Homo sapiens: one gene and its partner. The protein of the gene in region 2 interacts with the protein of the main gene of each other region in a pairwise test. Each region holds a gene or a part of one and is shown on either strand. Other genes may lie near its edges.

The links. The genes of interacting proteins can lie anywhere in the genome.
Region 1: the proteins of ZHX1-C8orf76 (region 2) and ANXA1 interact in binary tests that used the Homo sapiens proteins (3 or more experiments, as listed by UniProt).

What each region holds. Positions count from the first base shown.
Region 1 is NC_000009.12:73,147,981-73,154,876, forward strand, and holds the start of ANXA1 (annexin A1), read left to right. Parts: upstream 1-3,884; 5' UTR 3,885-3,944; exon of another isoform or gene 3,945-6,343; coding exon of another isoform or gene 6,344-6,362; intron 6,363-6,896. UniProt on the Homo sapiens protein: Plays important roles in the innate immune response as effector of glucocorticoid-mediated responses and regulator of the inflammatory process. Has anti-inflammatory activity.
Region 2 is NC_000008.11:123,271,266-123,278,717, forward strand, and holds the start of ZHX1-C8orf76 (zinc fingers and homeoboxes protein 1), read right to left. Parts: upstream 3,022-7,452; 5' UTR 2,952-3,021; exon of another isoform or gene 2,857-2,951; intron 1-2,856.

The sequences.
Region 1 (6,896 bases), on a different chromosome or scaffold from region 2:
GGACCACAGGCGTGCACCACCACGCCCAGCTAATTTTTTTTTGTATTTTAGTAGATGGGGTTTCATCATGTTGGTCAGGCTGGTCTTGAACTCCTGACCTGATGATCCGCCGCCTCGGCCTCCCAAAGTGCTGGGATTACAGGTGTGAGCCACCATGCCCAGCCCACTTCCCTAAAAGTCTCTTATTTATTACTCCTCCCTGCCACCAACTCCTGGCAACCATTGATCTTTTTACTTTCTCTATAGTTTGCCTTCTCCAGAATGCATCTCATTGGAATGAAACAGACATAGCCTTTTCATACTGTCTTCCTTTACTTAGCGATACTCATTTATGATTCCTTCATTTCTTTTCCTGGTTTAAAAGCATTTCTTTTTATCATTGAGTAATAGTCCATTACATAAACGTACTATAGTCCATGTATTCACTTACCTCTTGAAAAATATCTCAGCTGCTTCCAATTTCTGGTAATTATGAATAAACTGCTATAAGCATACATGTGCAGGTTTTTGTGTAAACATGTTTCCTAACTCATTTGGGTAAATATCTAGGAGCACAATTGCTGGATTGCATTGTAAGACTCTGTTTATCTTTGTAAGAAACTGCCAGACTATTTTAAAACAGCTGGAACCTAGAAAGCAGAGTTTGACCTTTTGACCTTAACACATATCTTCATTTTCCTTCTGCAAAACTTCTTGAAAATTATTGAAGTAAAATTTGTTATTATAGCGAATGTGACAAGGTCTTATTCTCTTACTTTCGAATAATATAGAGAGGGATATGGATACTATACTCAGGGATTAAACAAAATAACTTGTGCAATACAAAATTACTAATCCTAGCATGATCCTGATGTTGGAAGTATACTAGTTGAATCACCAAGTCATTCGCTGACTTTTCCTAAGTCACACAGTAATAGATACTAAGCCACCACCAAATTTGAGTTTTTATCTTCTCTAAGATTTTCCACCCACAAAAGGAAATATAGAGAGGCAGGGAGGTAAGATCTTTTTCCCTAAGTGAAGTCCAACAAAGGTACCTCCCTTTGGCTCTAGCTACCCACATGACTACTTCATTAACCTGAAAGAGTAAAATTTGAAAAAAAATTCTGTCTTTAATTCATGTGAATAACTGAGGAATAATAATAATAATAATCTCAATAACTCAGTGTGTGTGTGATAATTATTTGCCATGTTTAGAGGCAAAGGGAAAACATTTAGAATGTTAGCCCTCAAAATGCTTTGACCTGGGGACACATGAGAAACACACACTAAAATAATGATTTTTGTTGGCTGTGGATAGGGGGTATGAGGAAGCTGTGGGGAGATTTTGGAATATCTGTGAAATGCTGTTCTTGATCATTCAGAATATACTCTTTCTTCCATATAACAAGTAATGCTTAGATAGAGTTAAATGTAAAGGATGAGGGGACAGCTTACTAAGATCAGATATTTTGCAAGAGTCTTATGCACAATGAGATGTATGTGAGAGACTCCATATTTCCTCTCCTTGTTTTGTTTTGTTTCCTCTTCACTATCAGATTCTAAACCAAATGAGTGAAAATAAACATGCTGTGAAAAACGTAACATATAGAGATTGATTTTAACTGTCTTTTTTCTTTCCTTCTCTTTCTTTATTTTCTCTGTTTGTAAAGTAAGTGGAGCCGATGAATCATCATCTTCTAGAAACAGCAAGAGTGGTGAGTCATTTCTCTGGAGTATGTGGCATTTCACCCACAGAAAGCATTTAACCCATGATTATCCCCTCACTGTTAATGATAACATATTTTACTTGTTCTTTTATTTCCATAAATCTACTCGACATTATTATTATGCGGAGAAAAAGATTCTGACAGATTATTCACAGCAATATACCTACATGATTAGTGGCTTTCTTTTTGTGTTATGTTTGGGAGTTTCACTTGCCTTTAGTGTTACAGCTGGAAGTTAATTTTGGAAAAACATTCTTTTCACTTTTTTTTTCTTAATTCTGCTACAATTATCATATTTATTGTTGCTATTTTAGGTTTGCCTATGTATTACAAATCCAAACATATAAAATAATTCCATTCAGTTTATGGCACTGGTAATAGCAGCAACAAAGCAAAATGAGACTATACATGTTTTCTAGGTTGTTATATTTTATAAAAAGTAAGTGGAATTTTTTCTTCATTTCACAAGAGCATCACTGTGCAGGAATGTTCCAATAGTTCCATTACCAGAGTTAGGAATACAAACGCAAATTAAAGAAAAAAAGAAAACCAGATTTTGTATAATCATCTTATTCCTTCTCACCTGATGACATAAATATGGTATTAGAAAGTTAGTCTACATCTGTCAAGATCAATTTGCAATAATATCAATTAACTTAACTTGTTAGCAGGTAACTAATTAATTTTCAACTTACACATATGATAGTAAAAACATATATTGACATTTTCTTAAATATTTAGATTAGATGATCATCCTACTTCAGGATATGTTGACTTCATTGATATTGGCATCGAGCACTTAGAATGTATTATAAAATACTGCCAATCTTTAGAAAGTATTTTCATTAACTTCCTAAACTTCATGTTTTTTATGTGAAATATCTATGAGGAAAAGAGGAAAAAGAACAAACCACTAAATGCAGCATAAATTGAGCCATAATGCTGTGAGATTTTACACCTGTGCACTTTAATGGAAACATCATATAATACTTTGTAGGGTTTAAAGAAGAATGAAAATGAACCACTATGGAAGTTACCAGAACCAATTTTCCTCCATTGGGTGGGAAATTTCTTATGGAATGTGTTCTGTAATAGTTGCTGCTCCATTAATCCTTTCATTTTATAGGTCTAGTTCCTTGTTTTGGTGTTCAACTAGTCTACAATGTCAAAGATGTGTATCAAAATGTATATATAACTGATCTATATTACAGTTTATATATATAGTTCTATGTAACTGACTCTATTTAAAAGAATTAATGTAGATAGGCCTTCTGATGTCAATGCTTTTATTGAATGTCATAATGATCAAATTTTTGGCATTACCTTTGTTCAAAATTTTGAGCCAATCTGGAACTTTATTACTTCTATATTTCTTATTTATAACAACAAGCTATATCTAGGAACAAAAGTCGTTTATTTTTTAAGGCAAGAAAAATATAAATAGAAAATTATTCGGCACTGTGTAATGTTAAAATTTACAAATATATGTTATTTCTCCATTGTCACAAGAATTCTAGTGGGTAGACAACTTAGATAATGCTCCTATATACAAAAGTAAAAACAGCTAGGCATGGTGGCTCACGCCTGTGATTCCAACTCTTAGGGAGACAGAGGCAGGAGGATAGCCTGAGCCCAGGAGTTTGAGACCTGCCTGGGCAATATAACGAGACCCCATTCTCCACAAAAAGCGGGGGAAAAAGACAACAAAACAAAAGTAAAAACAGGTTCAGAAAAATTAAGTATGTCCCTAAAGTCACAGAATAATAAGTGATGGAGGTGGAATTCAAATGTAATATTTTGTTTGTTGGTTTGTTTAGTTTTGAAGGTAACATACTTTTTAGTCTACAACCTATTTAACTACAAAAGTGTGCCAATCACTGGTATTAGGATTGGGGCAGATGTATACTCTGAAAATAAAAGTGCAAAATAAATATCCCATCTGGAAATAAAAGTGCAAAATAAAGAGGGAGGAAAAATCAGCCCTTCCATTTCTTTTCCTTTGTAATGCCAGTTGAATTGGTTTAGTGAGTAGTTTTGCAAGACTTGTTTCACTTTGTTTTTGGACATAGCTGAGCCATGTACTTCAAACAGAAGGCAGCCAATTACTAACTTCTGGTTGCTAGGTGTGGCTTCCTTTAAAATCCTATAAAATCAGAAGCCCAAGTCTCCACTGCCAGTGTGAAATCTTCAGAGAAGAATTTCTCTTTAGTTCTTTGCAAGAAGGTAGAGATAAAGGTAAGTCTTGGTTTTCCTTTTAGTTAGTTTTGGTTGTTTTGAAAACTTTTCTCATCACTATGTTAAATGTTACTGCTTCTACAGGATTTATGGTTAGTTGCATTTAACATGATAAGTCATTCATAAATCTTTCTGTAGAATTACATTGGATATTTATATTTTAGGAATCACAAATTACAATATTTTTGTTCTACTTAGTTAACAAATACAAGTAAAAATAAGATAAGTTTGCTTAATACTGGCTCATTGTACTCTTGGTAAGTTACCATGAGAAAGAAGGGAAGAATGTGCTTTCCCTCTGGTAGCCTTAAAAGAATGTGTTTTTCCTTTCCTTCCCCTTGAAATATTTCTTCCCAAGAGCTGTGTGTTTTACAGAGAAATCGTGATGGGGGCTGCTTTTTGGGGGCAAGAACAAAAGTGATAGGAGTGGGCTGCAGGGAACTGTTTCAAAATAGTAGGACTTTCATAATTTATTTTCTTCTTTTGTAAGGAAAACAAGATAGATTCAGACCTCAAAGTGCTAATCATGCTCTTTGTAATAAACATTTAAAAATATATGTTATATTTGCTTATGCTATTTAAAATAAGAAGGTCCGCTTATTACTTTTTTCATTTAAAGAGGGTGTGGCCACATTCCTTTTCTTGTAGGCTCTGTGTCATATACAGTCTTTTCAAGTGCTGGCTGGAAAACCTAAAAAGAAGGGAAATACTTTCTGGGTAGTGTCAGATACATTATCCTAGGGGAATGTCAGTGAGGCCCTCCAACAGCTATTCCACTTGATTGTTGCATGAGCTAATGGCCATAAAACTCCTTAGAAAAGCACAAAGCAAAACTAAAGAAGAGTATTTACTAGTGTTGGATATATTTGTAAAAGTGAGATTACAAATCATGTATCTGGCTATTTTTTTCTTAAACATGTTCCTTCAAGAATTTTTCTGTTCGTTCATTTTAAATATTTATTAAATGTTCTGATTTCTTATGTTCACTGCTAGCTAATTAACAAGGATGGAATTTTTCTTGCCTTGGTTATATCTAAAAGATTGTAAAAACTTTGAGAAAGCAATGTTGCCCTCTTTCCACAGGAGTATTTTGGTAGCTGTAAGAGAATGCACATTGCAAATGACTCAAATGTGGTAAAATGTTGGTTTCATAATTCTGAAATGGCCTCTTCCCCAAAAGTGACAGTAACACCCTAGCTCCAGGCTCAACCACATCCAGCACATAGCCAACATTTAACAGATGTTGACAAAATAGTTAATAATAATATTATTAAGGAACCAGCCAGAGTTTCATGCTTATTAAATACTTTTTCAACCAGAAGGTCTGCAAAGGTTGATTTCTGAATATGACGTTAGCTCTCTCTAGACCTATTAATTTACGACATTTCAAATCAGAGGTAAACCAGCAGACCTATTATTTTTCAATGATAAACTATAAACAGTTTTTTGAAGTCAACTATTTCCTTTTCCTTTAAAATTGGACAGAATTTCATCAGGAAGCTCAGAACAATCCAATTTATATAATGCCTTCCTTCATTATGCTAATTTTCTTCATCTTCATCTACTTGAAGTAATATTTAAGATTGGCACTTCAGAGCTGTAAATGGATCTTAGATGATAATTACTTCAACATTCTTATTTTATAAACGAAGACCCTCTGGAGAAGCTAAATGTTTTTCTTGAGGTCAGATCGCCAGATAATCAAGAACCAGTATACTTCAATTTGTATTTTATATCCTATAGTTGTGGGTAGAAAATGTTCATTAAATTAGTGTAGATATGTTTTTTAAAATATTAGCAATGATACATGATATTCATTCAATAATACTTATTAACATCCTAAATTCCAGGCATTTTGCTAGGGATTGGAAGTACATACATAATGAATATTATTATTTGTATGTTAGCACGGGCCTCATGGCCTGCTCCTGGGGAATATAAACAAGCCAATGGAAAGTGATAATACAGAAAGGTGGGGCTGGTGTAGGGGTGAAGTCAGGATGCTTTGGGAGAGCATGGAAGGTCACCGAATCCAGTGCTGAGGAACTAATGAAGGGTTTCTGAAGAACGTGATGAGATCAATGCTGATGAGTCACTTAGAAGTAGCAATTAGTTAGGCAAAGGGAAGTGAATGTGGAGGAGGAACAAGCATTCCAGGCAAGAAGAACACCCTATCGAAAAGCCTGGAAGCAAAACATTAGTGAGGCTACCTTTCATAAATTGCTTTCTGTAAGTCATGCCATTGTGTAGTCTTAATTGCTTTCTCTCACCAGGGAAGGTGTGGGAAGGACTTGTGAAATACATATTCGAGGAAAAACTATGCACAAGGCCGTGCATTTAAAAATAAACTCCCTAAGGCTGGGGTGAAACCTGCTACGGTCTGCGCAAGTTGACTGTTAATGAATTTGATTCTCAGGTGTGAGTGATTAAAAGAACACTGATCATGTCATTTTCTTTTTGGTCACTAATTCCCTCCCTCCCTTCTCTTTCTTTTCTTTTTTCTTTTCTTTTCTTTTTCTTTCTTTCTTCCCGACAGAGTCTTGTTATGTCGCCCAGGATGGAGTGTAGTGGTACAATCTCGGCTCACTGCAGCCTCCGCCTCTTCCTGGGTTCAAGTGATTCTCCTGCCTCAGCCTTCTGAGTAGATGGGACTACAGGTGCACACCACCATGCCTGGCTGATTTTTGTACTTTTGGTAGAGACGGGGTTTCGCCATGCTGGCCAGGCTGGTCTTGAACTCCTGGCCTCAAGTAATCTGCCCACCTTGGCCTCCTAAATTGCTGGGATTGCAGGTGTGAGCCACCATGCACAGCCAAAATATATAACACTTTGGAATCAAAAGGGATGGATTTATGTCTCCATTCTTGCCACTACTAGCAGGAAGACTGCTTGAAAATAGCACTCAGTTTTCCCAGATAGAAACTGAGGATAATGATTAAAGGCTATTATTCC
Region 2 (7,452 bases):
ATTTTAAGTTCAAAAAATTTAGTCTTAACAGTAAATGTGCTTATCACAACATAAATAAATATTTATAATGATTTAAAAAATGTGTATTACTGGCTAGCACCATAAACAGTACAATAGATAATTCCAAAAATCTCTCTGAATAATTGCACTGACTATGATATTAGATTAAAAACTAGGTGCTGAACTTTCAACACTGTTTATTTAAGTAAAGTCTTTGGGCCCAAATCCACAATGCTGCAACACAAATAAAAGGGTTATTTCCTCAGCTACATTTGTGATCATTTTAATAATTTTAAAAGCATTTTCATTTAAGTATTAAGTTATAATTTACAGCAAACTAAGTCTCAAATATCACATTTTATGCTTAATTAGCATAAGAAATATAATACATCATAATATAACCTTTCCATCTTAATATAAAATATAATAATACAAAAGGGAGAAAAATCTTCAAAATGAACCACCTCTCCTATGCTATTAATTTCGCTAATAACTGTAAAACTTTGTCCCCAATTATTGAAAAAAAAAGAACTTACAATTATCATTAAAGGTGAAATAATTGCTACATCATGCATGAACTACCCCCCAAATCCGGTGAAATAATAAGCTTAGCTATAAAGGAAAGAAATCCACTAATGAGTGTTCACTAGCACAGGCACATTTATGTTTTCGGATTTAGCATATTTTCAAACCATCTGGCATTAATGCCTCTCTGGTTCACCCAGCCTAATCTGTTCAGAATTGAATATAAAACCAGAGCTACATGAACATTGAGGAAACCAAAGAACAGCACACGTGCATAAAATGTTCCAAATGTAAAGTTCTAAACTAGTTTCTATTTGAACTGTATCTTTAAAACATTTCCATTGAAGACGTTAAAGCTCTTTCGAAAATACAAGAATGGTTCAAGAAATCTCTATGAATCATCACTATCATCAGTTACCCAAGTATTACCCTTTCTCATTTTAATCCTGATTGTCAAATAAGGCGTCTGAAGAGGTACTTCAACAAAAAAGATTCATTGATAACTGAAATGCTATCATTTTATATCGAAAAGGTCCACGATTATACATTTTACTTTGTATAAAATTAGTCTGCTTAGCCTTAACATGCTTTGGGAAAGGAGAGAAAAGCTAAAAGGAAAAAAATATTCATGAAAGCCCTTTTTCTTTTATGTCCTGTTACCGCATTATTGTCATTGGCAGCACTCACATTTCTTTTGCTTAAAATCAGGAGTCAGAATTGCTACTTTAGAAATTAAAATAATCGATGGGTATACTAGGGCCAATTTCCCTGTTAAAACCAACTCCTGCTCACCTTCGCTCCCGACATAAAAACAAATGACTTTTTCAGAATAATTTTTCAGAAACGAAGATAATTAATGTAGCACCATATAACACAAATTAAAGCTTTCAGACAAAGACTGAGAAACAATGACCAACACCAGCAAATCTAAAGTGCTCTTATATATGTATACACACAACACACACACACACCCCAAACCAAATATTCACTGTTCCTGGGGGGAGACTGCTTCTTCCTCCCTAACCGTGAACCGCTGTATATTTTCCAATTTTGTGATTTTCCTTTTTCTGCTATCACATTAACCTCCAAGAGAACTGCTTAAGTTACATGGAATCCCAACCTAATCACATCACGACTTCTCTCTCAGCCTTTACATTTTTCTCTCAAATATTAGCTCTTCGCATTTTTTTTTTTTTCTAATAGCTGGGCTGAGTTGACAGAAAAGGGCTGTGGAATTCCTGCTCTGTCCGATATCTTCCCTGTATTCCTCTTTTCTCATCCCTAGTCTCTGTTCTAATTCCCCCGCCTGCTGTCTCTCATTGACGCCTTCCCAGCTGCTGGATCCTTCACTAACCTAAGCTAAGGATATCAAATGGAATCTTTTCCTTCTCAGGGGCTATGCTCTTTCCTTACAGTTACCCACGGAGGAGAGAGGACAGGAAAGGTACTAAAACAAAGAATTGCCAAGTCCCTTTACCTCCAACTTTGGTGTAAATATATAAGGAAAGGGGATCTGCCAGGGCTCTTCTTTCCTGCCCTTAGACCTTGTTCCTCTCACACCTCTCCTTCCCAGCCTTTTATACCCCTTGAGGTATTAGTAGATTGTTCACTGTGGGCCCTAAGGCTTGGAGGATTCCCATGGGTCAGCCCCCACACCCCCACGCCCCTACCATCCTCTTTAATTAACTTCTCCCTAAATCCCAGGGCTTCGTCACAATCGTAATATGGTTCTTAAGGACTCAACTCCCAGTCTTTCCCAAAGTTGGGACATGGCCTGGCCCCGAAACGGGTGCGCATAGCCTTCCTTGAACTGGAGGTAAAGACTTCTCCTGAAGGGTTTGCTGGGGCTCCAACCTCAGTCAGTGCGCTCAGCTCCAGCAAGAGAATCTCTCCTTACTCTCAGGGAGACTGGGTCCCCCACGAGGCAGCCACACGCCCCCGGAGGACAGCGCTCCTGACCTCCTCTAGGACTCCCAACATTACTGGGGTGCTCCCTCCGGCGGCGCCCTCCGCTGGGAATACGCAGTCTTCACTCCTCTCAACAATCCTAAGTTGCTGGGTCCTCACCAAGGCAGGGGGCTGAGATGTTCCCTCCAGAGAGCCCCCCGCCCCCAAGCTCTTTCGGTGGCGGAGACACCCAAAAAGAGCGAGGGAGGCTGTGGGTCTGTCTGTCCCTCTGCGGCGACTACCCAGCCGCGAGGCAGGCCCCGTCCCTCCCCCTCGGACGCCCCACGCCGGGTCCACCCCGCCACCCGCCGCCGCGAGCGGGCTCAGCCCCAGGGGTCTCTGCTGTGAGGCTGCCCTCCTCCCGCCAGGCCCCGCGCTACTCGCCTTTCCCGTGCCGGCCGCGGACTCTGCGCTCCAGTTCCCACCCGCAGCCCAGAGTCTCCGGGCCCGCTGGTCGCGGAGCCGGCTCGCGCCACTACCTGCAGGGGCCGCCGCGCCTCTCAGCGCCACGCCGCCGCCATCTTGCATTTCAAACCGGCTGCACTTTTCAGGGAGTCAACTCTGACCTGTGAACCCTAAACCCGGAACCGCTCGGCGGGCCCGCAAAGGGGCCTCAGCAGCTCGGTGGCCCCGCGGAGTGTGGGGACTCAGGGTGGGGGTGCGAGGAGAGGCGCGCGCCCCAGCGGCCGTCCGGGGGCGGAGGGGGAAGGGAGAGAGCCGGCCAAGGCGGGGCCCTCCCGCGCGCGCGTCCTCCGCGCGCCCCCACCCCGTGCGGCGCCGAGCTCTCCACGCCCAGACCCTGCTACTCCACTGGGGTCCGACCCCGGCCCCTAGTCCGGGGATTGGCGCACCGCGGGAGGTAGGGAGGCGCCCCGCCCCCCTGTCAACAGAAGCCCCGCCCCAGACTGCGGAAGCTCCGCCCCCTGTCAGGAGACGCCCCGCCTTCCCAGGGCTCGAAATGGCCCCGCCCTTTGCCTGCGACCGCTCCGCCCGCTGTGGACTGAAGCCTGGTCTTCTCTCGGGTCAGCACAGAAGGCAGCCCCGCCTTCCTTGCGCTCCGCCTTCCTAATGTCACTGCTGGATCGTGAGAGGTAAGCATGCTGGCTTCTACTGAAACGCCCCTTGTCATCACACGCCCATCCCCTGGGGCGACACGACCCAGGCCCCGCCCCTCGGGGGGCTGCTGCGAGTCCGGCCGGGAGCCCAGCGCCCTGACAGAAGTCGCCGCGCCCCTTGTCAGCGGCAGCTCCACCTCTCCTCGCTTCGGACCCCGCTCCTCCGCGGGCCGCAGCTCCACCCGCTGACACCGAAAGTTCAGTTCAGCTGCACTCAGAACCGCCGGGCAAGGCGGAGCCGCCCTCTGCCCCTCAGCCGCCCTCCTCCCTGCGAACCGCCACTCGCTCTTCCAGAGGCTTCTGTCCGAGTCGAGGGCTTCACATCCCGTCGGCTTTCAGGGAACCAGCCCCGCAGCGGGGCCAGCGAGGGCCAGGGGTTTCGGGAACACTGCCCGGCGTCTCCGCCCCTCCCTACTCACTTTCCCTTTCCCCCGCACCGCGGTCAGAACGTGGAGGAACAGAACCAAAGCGGAGAGCGGCGACTCACCCTCCAGCTGCTCCACACGCCGGGCCTTGGACGCTCGAGCGCTCCTGGGCCCCTTGACGTTCACTCCCCACCCCCATCCCAGTCGCGGACCCTTTGTGCAGAGCTCCGCTGAGCCACAGTAATCCTAAAAGCACAGCAGAGCTCCGCTGAGCCACATTAATCCTAAAAGATGCAATTGCTTCAAGTGGAAGTCTGATTTTTTTTTTTTTTTTGAGACGGAGTCTCGCGTTGTCGCTTAGGCTGAAGTGAAATGGCGCGATCTCTGCTCACTGCAACCTCTGCCTCCCGGGTTCAAGCGATTCTCCTGCCTCAGCCTCCCGAGTAGTTGGGATTACAGGGGCCCGTCACCTAACGCCGGGGTAATTTTTGTATTTTTGGTAGAGACAGGGTTTCGCCATGTTGGCCAGGCTGGTCTTGAACCCCTGAACTCAAGTGATCCGCCAGCCTCGGCCTCCCAAAGTATTGGGATTACAGGAGTGAGCCACCGCGCCTGGCCGTGGAATCTGATCGTTGAAATCAGTGTTCTACAATATTCTTTTTATTTGTAGGTTTCATCCTGGAATCCTAAAACTTGTGTAGGATAAGGCTTAATTTTATAAGCAAAGGTATTCAACCCTGCCACATTCAATGCCCTGTATTTACAACAAAAAATATAACACTGCTTTACTCTTCTGGAGTTAAATTCCTAATGCAAACTATCTCTACAAATAATTTCAAGAAACCAATGTAATGTTCTAATAAAGGTGAAAAAGGAGAAAGTAGTTCATAATAAAATACTGTATGTACTAATATCAAGAAAAATTTTAAAATAACAGAGTTTTCACAATGTAAATACTCTGCCACCAATAGAATGCAAAACAAAAACTGTCCCGGCAAAATTTCAGTATGCCCCTGAGGGGCAGTACTGCCCTCGCTGGGAACCTCTTTAGACCGAGGAAGAGGTCTGGAAATGCTTCAAATAGAGAAATTCATTCTTTTGTCTACACAGTTAATGACAAGTTTTCTTTTGTTGTTGTTGTTGTTGTTGTTTTTGAGACGGAGTCTCGCTCTGTTGCCCAGGCTGGAGTGAAATGGTGCGATTTCGGCTCACTGCAACCTCTGCCTCCTGGGTTCAAGTCATTCTTCTGCCTCAGCCTCTTGAGTAGGTGGGATTACAGGCGCGTGCCACCACACCCGGCTAATTTTTGTATTTTTAGTACAAACGGGGTTTCACCATGTTGGTCAGGCTGGTTGCGAACTCCTAACCTCGTGATCCGCCCTCCTTGGCCTCCCAAAGTTCTGGCATTACAGGTGTGAGCCACCACACCCGGCCGATGACTAGGTTTTGTGTGTGCCAGTATATGCCAGGCACTGTGGGAGATGTACAGCTGAGTTAGTCAACTTTCCTGTCTTCCAGGAACTTACAATCAAGTAGCCAAGCAAAAAACAGGAGCATAAAGATGTGTCAAGTGAAAGATGAGAAGAGACCCCTTTAGGGATGTGGAGCTGTTGACTGTAACTTCACATTTTACCCCCACTTCCTCCCTCACTTTATTCTTCCTTCTCCTCTTCTACTTTAGCACTAGTTTATAGAGTCACCTCCTCCTCCCTATAAGCTGTCTCCCTGGTTCACTGCCCAATGCCAGCCATCCAGAATTCTCCCAGTTTAGGGTCATGCCCACAGGGCAATTCTGTCCAAGAAAACACAGTGCTGAGAACAATGTCCTTAGCTGAATTGCTGCCAATTACTTGGTATCCTTCTACAAAGCAAGACTGTTATCATCACCACTCAAAAAAAAAAACTGGTTGCAGACTTAAGCAATATGAATATATGTTTAGCATAGCAGATTGTGCCAGCCCACATAAATCTGCTTAGAGATCAGGCTCACAGAGTAACTTGTTTTTATTAAAATAAATTCATTTATAAAAATTGTAAATATGATGGATTTTAACAGCTGCGTGGCTCCAGGAGTTTTTTTTTTTAACCATGGATTGGCACAATTAGAAGTCTAGATTTTTTTTATGCATATGTTTTGCAGTTTGTCATACTCAAACTGGTATGGCAAAACTTCAGTACTCTTAGAGATAGAAGTTGTTCAGCAGGTTTTAAAAAGCACAGCACTTTTGCTATTCAGAGCCTCTTCCACCTTTGGAACAGTGAAAAAAAAATATTGGTAGGAAATGAAGAGCTTTGGATAAAAAGTTCTAAGCTCTGGTGTCATCTGAAGAGGAATAGGCTTCCAACAGCACTTTTTGTAGTAGTTCCCTTCTGTTATTATTTTTCCTTTTTCCACTTTTTGTGAAAAAGTCTTTTTAAAAACATGATACCATGAAATAGACCAGCCAAAAAGACATCAAACTAAGACACTTTAAACTTTTGACTACAGTTAGGTGAACTTAAGAATTTAGCCCTAGTGAAGTGCTCCCACTATTTTCTGTAATGGCTACATTAGAAGGTGAACAAAAATGTTCCTACTAAAACTAGTTCAGGCTGAATAAACTTTCTAAGACAGTTTAGGGGTCAAGCCATTTCCTGTTTCTCTTAGTGCTTGCTCTGTGAAAATAATAATGTTATTGGTAATAACAACAGTAAAAACAAGTCAATATTCTTGGTACTTGTAAAATTCCTTCCCACTCCACTCTTTCCCTCTACTTCTAGCATAGGACCATATATAGTACTACAGGACTATAGATGCAAAACAAGAAAAACAGAGAGGAAAACTGATTTTCCAGTATTCATTCAAAGAGTAACACATTGATACACTTTATATTTTAATCATAGTGTCATCTGGGTTGATTCATTCATTGGTGTGTAACTCTATATCCACCAAAACTTAGTGTCTTGGCCAGGCAGGGTGCCTCACGCCTGTAATCCCAGCACTTTGGGAGGCTGAGGCAGGTGGATCACAAGGTCAGGAGATCGAGACCATCCTGGCCAACATGGTGAAACCCTGTCTGTACTAAAAATACAAAAATTAGCCGAGCGTGGTGGCATGTGCCTATAGTCCCAGCTACTCAGGAGGCTGAGGCAGGAGAATCGCTTGAACCTGGGAGGCAGAGGCCGCAGTGAGCCAAGAGCGCACCACTGCACTCCAGCCTGGGTGACAGAGCAAGACTCTGTCTCAAACAAACAAACAACCAAAAAAACCTTAGTGGCTGTATCAGCATGACTTCTAAGGAAAAAGTGGCAGTATCTATTTTTTAACATAAAAATGTAGCATACAAATAACCCTAGGGAACACTCCTCCACTAGAAAGCAATGCTAGAGTGAGAAAATGCAATAATTCACTGTGTTTCAGTCTTTGCAGAGAAGTCTAAGTAGCAGTCCTTAAACTTTAATGTTCATGAAAATTATGGAGAACTTTCTTTAAAAATAGATTCTCAGACCCCACTCCTGGA